2 linked regions of the Homo sapiens genome follow. The protein of the gene in region 2 purifies or fractionates together with the protein of the main gene of each other region. This does not show direct contact. Each region holds a gene or a part of one and is shown on either strand. Other genes may lie near its edges.

The links.
Region 1: the proteins of RAB32 (region 2) and CHML purify together in Homo sapiens (affinity purification with mass spectrometry; 4 studies listed by BioGRID and IntAct, with this or other methods). This does not show direct contact.

The regions. Positions count from the first base shown.
Region 1 is NC_000001.11:241,633,870-241,637,369, forward strand, and holds part of CHML (rab proteins geranylgeranyltransferase component A 2), read right to left. Parts: intron 2,326-3,500; exon of another isoform or gene 2,205-2,325; coding exon of another isoform or gene 2,164-2,204; 5' UTR 1,929-2,163; coding exon of another isoform or gene 1,898-1,928; coding exon 1-1,897. UniProt on the Homo sapiens protein: Substrate-binding subunit (component A) of the Rab geranylgeranyltransferase (GGTase) complex. Binds unprenylated Rab proteins and presents the substrate peptide to the catalytic component B.
Region 2 is NC_000006.12:146,546,833-146,550,332, forward strand, and holds part of RAB32 (ras-related protein Rab-32), read left to right. Parts: intron 1-2,631; coding exon 2,632-2,909; intron 2,910-3,500. UniProt on the Homo sapiens protein: The small GTPases Rab are key regulators of intracellular membrane trafficking, from the formation of transport vesicles to their fusion with membranes.

The sequences.
Region 1 (3,500 bases), on a different chromosome or scaffold from region 2:
CATTATTGGTTCCAGGAGCCTCTGGCTGCTTATCATCACCATCAAAGATAATGTCTTCTGGATTTGGAGGTGGAGGGCAGAATTCTTCAGTTGGAAAGATCTCCTGGAAAAGTGTTTCAGCTTGCTTGACAGCATGCTCATTTCCCAGGCCACAGTCAGGCCCAGAGCAGACATAAACATTGGAAGGCAAGCCATTATACGAGCTTCTGCTGATTCCCGAGGAATCTCTCATATTAAAATAAAGAGCCCACAAGAGTCTTGGCTTTGTAAGTTCTTCCTCGTTTATTTCTGTTTCAGTATACGGAGTGAATAATTTCTTCACCACTGATTCTAAGTCTTCTCTTGCTGTTTTAGAAGATGAACATGTCAAATGTACCAGATAGGTGTCCTTCATGCATGTCATGGTTGAAGAACATAATTCTGTGACCCGTACAGCACAAGCTCCTGGCTCTGCTGGAGGAACTATCAGAATGGAAGTCTGCTGATCTAAATCTGTCTTTAGTATAGACTGATCTGTAATGAGTACTGCCCTAGAGATCTGCTTATACTGCACATTTGAGCATGTTTCCTCAGAAAGGTAACTGTCTTCCACAATAAAATATTTAGCATTTATTCTTTGACCAAAGTGATCTATAATTGCTTTACATCGTCCAGATTCTTTGTCGACTACAAAGCATTGTACTTTATGACGAAGACAATAGATTCCACCAAAAACTGCACACATCCTACAGAAACCCTGGGGAATTTCTCCTTGGCCATACAAGGGAAATAAAAAGGGGGTGTTGCCAAACCGTCCGAGACACTGAAGGAAGTTTTTAGTTGCGTTAAGACCATCTATTGTAGTGCAAGATGATTCTGATGTCATTGCAATTGAGTGCAGTACAAAATGTTGAAGGTTGGGAGTTAGTTTTTTAGTTTTTAAGTATTCTGAAAATGAACACTGCCTGAAAGCTTGGTATTCATCAGGATGTTGTTCATACTCTAAACAAAATGTGAGAAATTTCATTAGCATCCTCTTTTCAACCATGGTGAGTTCCTTGCTATTAAAGACATCTGCTCTGGAACAAGGAACTTGTTCTACCTTTCCTTCCCGAAATGCAAGAATCCTAGTGACATTTTTAAATTCTACATAACGACTAACATCTGATTTGATTAAAAGATCAATTAGCAATCCTTGAGAATACAGCAGTTTTGACACCAAATCAATATTAAACCTCCTGCCTTCTTTAACTATTTGAGAGTAAGTAATCCTATTTCTAATTGGTTCATCGGCCTTATCTTCTACTGTAGATTTGCTTTCATCTTTATCTCCATCTTTATCTGAAACTGTGTGCATACAAGTTTTATCTCCACAATACTTTTCCTTCTCCACTGATTCCTCTACATCAGTTACTTCTAGTGAAATCTCTGTATCACTTTTCTGAGTGTGTTTTGCAGGCATTTCGTCGCTATTAAAATACGATAACTGGCTTTCTTCAGGTAATGCAGAATCCAGAACTTCAGTGAAGGTATTAGACACCCCCAAAGAAGGATTTTTCTGCAGAGCACCAATCTCTTCAACGTTGTCCTCCATATCCTGACTGGCGTAGCAAAAAGCTTCTGTGTGTTGAATAGTTTCATCCTTCTTGCGAAGAGTGATGGCTTCTTCTGTTTCATGGATCAGGTCCTGCCATACAACAGTACTTTCTTCCCCAATGTCATTGTTTTGCTGATACTCCTTCAACCAGGATAGCAATCCTGAAAAGCTGAAACTAGCCCAGTTTCCTCCATAGTAGCTTCTTGAATCAATATGCAGAACCCTCTGACCACTTCTTGAACATGCAGCTGCAAGGATGGATTCGGGCAAACCTGTCCCTATTATAACCACATCAAACTCTGTGGGAAGATTGTCCGCCATTTTAGGAAGTAACAGCGTCTGGTGACAACTGCTGATGAAAGAAATGAGGTGTGATTATGCTGTAATAAAATCTGTCCTTCTGATGTTCCAGTTATCCCAGAAGCACTGAAGTTGCAGGTCCTAGCTGTTTAACGGTTACCCTTTTAAAATATTTTTTTTCTTATAAGTCAGTAGCATAAAAACATGAGCAAGTACATCTAATCACATCTGAGAATACTAAAATGGATGTGTGGTTTCATTTCTGCATTTCATCTTAGCAGTAAATGTCAAAATGCATCATATATGCATTTGTGACTGGAACTCTTCTCTGAAAGAAGAAAATTCAAGAAAGAATACATTGTAAACAATATAAGAGAAAAATAATTTCATGCAACAATGACAATCCATTGGAGTGTGACATCTTATTTGGACATAAACCTCTACTAAAGCATGTCTTAAATGCTTTCTCACATATTTTCTAATTTCTTGAGAATGGACAATAGAGATATAACAGCCCTCCCAAGAATCAGGCAACATAGTAATAGAGAATGAACATAATGTTCCACAAAAATAAAGAAGAAATAACATAATACAATTCTCTAACTTTAGCTTTTAAGAAAACTATCATGTGAATAAATCTATACACAGCTGTGAGCTTAGACTAAAAGGAACGCATGGCTCCACTGTTTATAGAAACAGATTATAAACTATGTGCATACTGCCATGATTCAAAATATTTCTGTGGCCATTACAGTCTATGTGTGATTCCAGAACAGCTGAATATAAGACCTTTCCATGCCACAACCACCCTTAGGATCTCATGGTAGCAACATGAGACTATTTCTACTCAATTACTAGTCAGATTATTACAAAAGGATTAATTCAGTAAAACAACTGGCCATTTAAAAATATTTAGGCTCATAATAGCCCTGAGGAGGAAAATGTATTAAAAATATTATATGAATGTACACATGCATATAAGTAATAAAGGAAAAAAGTGTGTAAGTGTAAGTAAAAAAGGAAAACTTCTGATTTCATATTAAAATATCTTAACATAAATAATACCTACTTCTAACATTTGAATACAGTGATGTTTGCATTTCGCCACTGTCTCTGCAACCCTGAATCTCTGCATCCCAAGCAAAAGGTCTATCTAAACATCCTCTGCCAAGACTAACACTGTTTGTTCTTATTTTTGAAGGGGAAGTTTAAAAAAAAAAAAATAATAAGGTTCTCCTGTTAACTTTGAGCATAATGCTGGTTACATTCCATGTGCGGAAGACATCTGTGTGATGCCCTGTGTGGCCAGAGGTAGAAAGGCCAAGGTGCTGAAGAGCATACTCACCTGAAAGTCTTTAGGCTAAAGCAACAATACTGCTAAACTTTCTAATATTCATCATTGCACAGTTTTGAGCTCTGGTTTTCACTACTGTTAAACCTACTGAAATATAAATCAGTACAAGCTGTACCTGTCTAGCCCAAGATGACTAATAATCCTGGATACTGGAAAAACAAGCCATTCAATTGGAACTTAGATTAAATTGCATAGGGCACACACCTTTAGTTTAACTAAAATGGCAATCCTAACAGTCCTGTCTAGTCAAAGCCTCTGTCTCAAAAATAT
Region 2 (3,500 bases):
GAAGAAATTATGACGAATCTCTATGCTTGAAAGCTGTGGCAAGTATGATAGGCTAGAATTATCAAATGTTTTCTACACATGTAGCTAAGCAGATTCAGCTGAACTCTTCAGGTTAAGAACCACTGTGATCCTCAGATACACAAATCTGTTCTTACGGCATTGAAGGAATCTGGCTTTAAAATACAGATGCAGTTTAGTGCAGTTTTTGTGTTAGACAATTGCCATCTCTTAACTCACACGTACTTTAGGACTGCTGCTCAAAACATAACTGAAATATACTAAAATCTTGAAGTCTTTGATAACACTTTACAGAGATCTTAATAAATGCATACTCAAGATATAGCAAGAGATGTCTCTGATCTTCCTTTTAATGCTCAGTGTAGGTAAAGTAGTATTTGGTTTACTATTATATGCTTATTGCTTATTAGTCACTATAGCATTTTTCAGGCAAATTGAAAGACTGGTCTAGGTTAAATCTTAAAAAAACAAGTTTGTCCATTTAGGTCTAGTATACTTTAGCCTTCATGTATTGACTGAGTGATTTGCTTTTTAGGATCAACATTTTTTAATAAAAATCTGAATGAGTAACTCTCCTTTGGGCCAAAGGACAAATTGGGAACAGTCTGCTCTGAAGTTCATATAAATAATATTTACCCAAGCATAAAATGTGTGCTTGGAAGATATAAACTATATAATTTATGCCTAAACTTATTTTACATTGTTTTGATTCCCATCCAAAATAGAATGTGGATCCTGATTGCCTTGCTGCATCTTATACTTTGTCGATTAGTATACCTAGTAATATCCCTTTGTCTTTTTTTTCACAACTCTCCTATCATCTTTCATGAGCACGAGTAAAAGGAAATACTTGAAATTTACAGATGATTCACAAAAAAAAAAAAAAAAAAGCAACAGTCACTAAAGTTTAACAACTCTTTGTTAACTTCTAGGTTTCTAACTGTTCTTTTACTCATTTGTCACCCCACTCTCTTTTCTAAATTAAAGATATAGTCCAAAGGAATAGTTTATTACCATGTAATTATCTTGAAATCTTACTTTTTCAATTTCCTAATTTAAGACTGTCATATCTTGTTGCTTAGTCTTTTCATATTCAATAATTAAAATATATAAAAATGGAAGTGGTTGGTAATGTGTGCACTGCATTTGAAATTGGAGTCTGAATCATTTCAATGCATATAGTCTTTCTGCAGAATAGCGATTTTGAACAGTTGGCATATCATGTAAGTTTTTATAAATGTCAGCATTATGAGCCAATGAACTATATAATGGTCAGATTTACATCACAATAAAATATGAGCATAATAGTAGGGTTTCATATGTGACCATTTGTTACAGTAAAATTTAGACCTTTGGACTATTACAGTACAGCTTCAGTTAAACCATATGAGGAGTCATCACAAAACAAACCTTAAATTTATGCATTCACGTTTGACCATTGTTTTATTCTTCTTCCATTATTCCCTAAAACAATATATAAAATTATATTGCATTGTAGAGTTTGGAGAAGGAAGAATTTTATATTTTGGGGTATCTTTGCATCTGTGCAGAGAAAATGTGTCAATAAAATGTAGATAAAGCCTGTTGCTCATGTGTTTCAAGAAGAAAGTGTCTTTATCATAGAACAGAGTGATACATCTTAGATGTGCATTGATTGCCAATCATTTTTCCTTCACACTGTAGTCAGTAACTAAGTCAAGGCAACTGCAAGATAGTTCAGAAAGGCTAGCATCCCACTTCTATAGGTGTGTGGGAGTCAGAAGACCTGGATTCTAGTCCTGTCTTCTTTAGTCAGTGCCACTATAATCCTGGCCAAGCATCCATTTTCCTGTTGTTACATCTGTCAGATGAAAAGAAGGGTCTTTCCTATGCCAAAGATTAGTACAATAGCAGATAGTAAGAGAACGCTTTGCAAAGTCCTATATAATGTACAAAGCAGATTTTTCCCAAAGTGTTTGACATAAATTATTTTAAAAGTACAATGACATTTGAAGAACCCTGGAATTGATTCTTCTTGTAACAACACAACCAGTTGTGCCTTTTGTTCTGAAACAGATTTTCATGTATCTACTACTTACAGGGGTGAAATCTTGCATATTGAGTCAGAAGTGGGTATGGGCTAGAGATATGAAGGAGAGATGAGTTGAGAACATGAACTACTTTATCTCATGTCCAGCCCTAATCTATTTGACTAGCATGTTACCCACTGCACTTATCTCCTTCCTGCAGGCTTCATTTCTTCTATTCTTGTCTCTTCTTCCTCTACTTCCAGCTTTATGTTTTCCTTTAGTGCCTCTCTTCTCTTAGACTAAGGGGAGACGAGTCGGAATAAATGACAGACTTTGTAGCTTTAAATATTGTCATATTGGTTTTTATGGAGAATATGTTGTACAGAACATAAAACTAATTCATTATGTACTTAAACCAAATTATCAGACACATCTGCTCTATGGGTCATGGTCTGTATGGATAGCCTTAATCACACCAGGTTATATTGCTGTGGAATGGAAGACATTTGTTCATAGTGTTGCTCTTGGGGTAAAAGGGGTTATACCTAAATGTAGACTCTGTCTGAATTACAAGTTTTTAATTTTTTCTTATATTTATGTCTAGGGCAGGAGCGATTTGGCAACATGACCCGAGTATACTACAAGGAAGCTGTTGGTGCTTTTGTAGTCTTTGATATATCAAGAAGTTCCACATTTGAGGCAGTCTTAAAATGGAAAAGTGATCTGGATAGTAAAGTTCATCTTCCAAATGGCAGCCCTATCCCTGCTGTCCTCTTGGCTAACAAATGTGACCAGAACAAGGACAGTAGCCAGAGTCCTTCCCAGGTGGACCAATTCTGCAAAGAACATGGCTTTGCCGGATGGTTTGAAACCTCTGCAAAGGTGAGATCTGCTTTGCTTATGCATCTTTTGCTTTCTAGCTCATAATTCTGAGCTGTAAATGTAAAGTATTTAGATATATTTATGTGAGTGGTGTTTGAAAGTCTGGAAAATGAGAAGTGTAGCATGGATGTGTTATAGCTTCTTTCAGTCCACAACAGGACTGCTTTCCAAATTGGCTAATGGCTAATAGAAGGGCAGATTTTCCATCAAAACAAAAAGAATTATTTAGGGCAAAAAGCAAATGACATTTTCTGTGAGTTTGAGTTTTTAACTGAGGTACTTCTCATGCAACTAGAGTGGTTGGGGGTATTGTCAAGCACGAGAATTTTTGGTTTTTACAAAAGGCTAAGTGAATAGGAAGATGCCTCTGGTGAAGATGTGTGTCACATGCAGGACCATGTGAAAAGATCAGAGAGGAGATTTATTCAGATGATGTTTGAAGAGTTTTAGGTTAACTGTGTACGAAAGATTTGAAACAGCCAGAAAGTATCAACATTTGTGGTATGCTTCATAAACAGTAGAGTGAGAATTTTTTCTTTTGTCTATTATGGAAAGCTGAATAAAATATTTTCTGAAGGAAAAAATAAAACA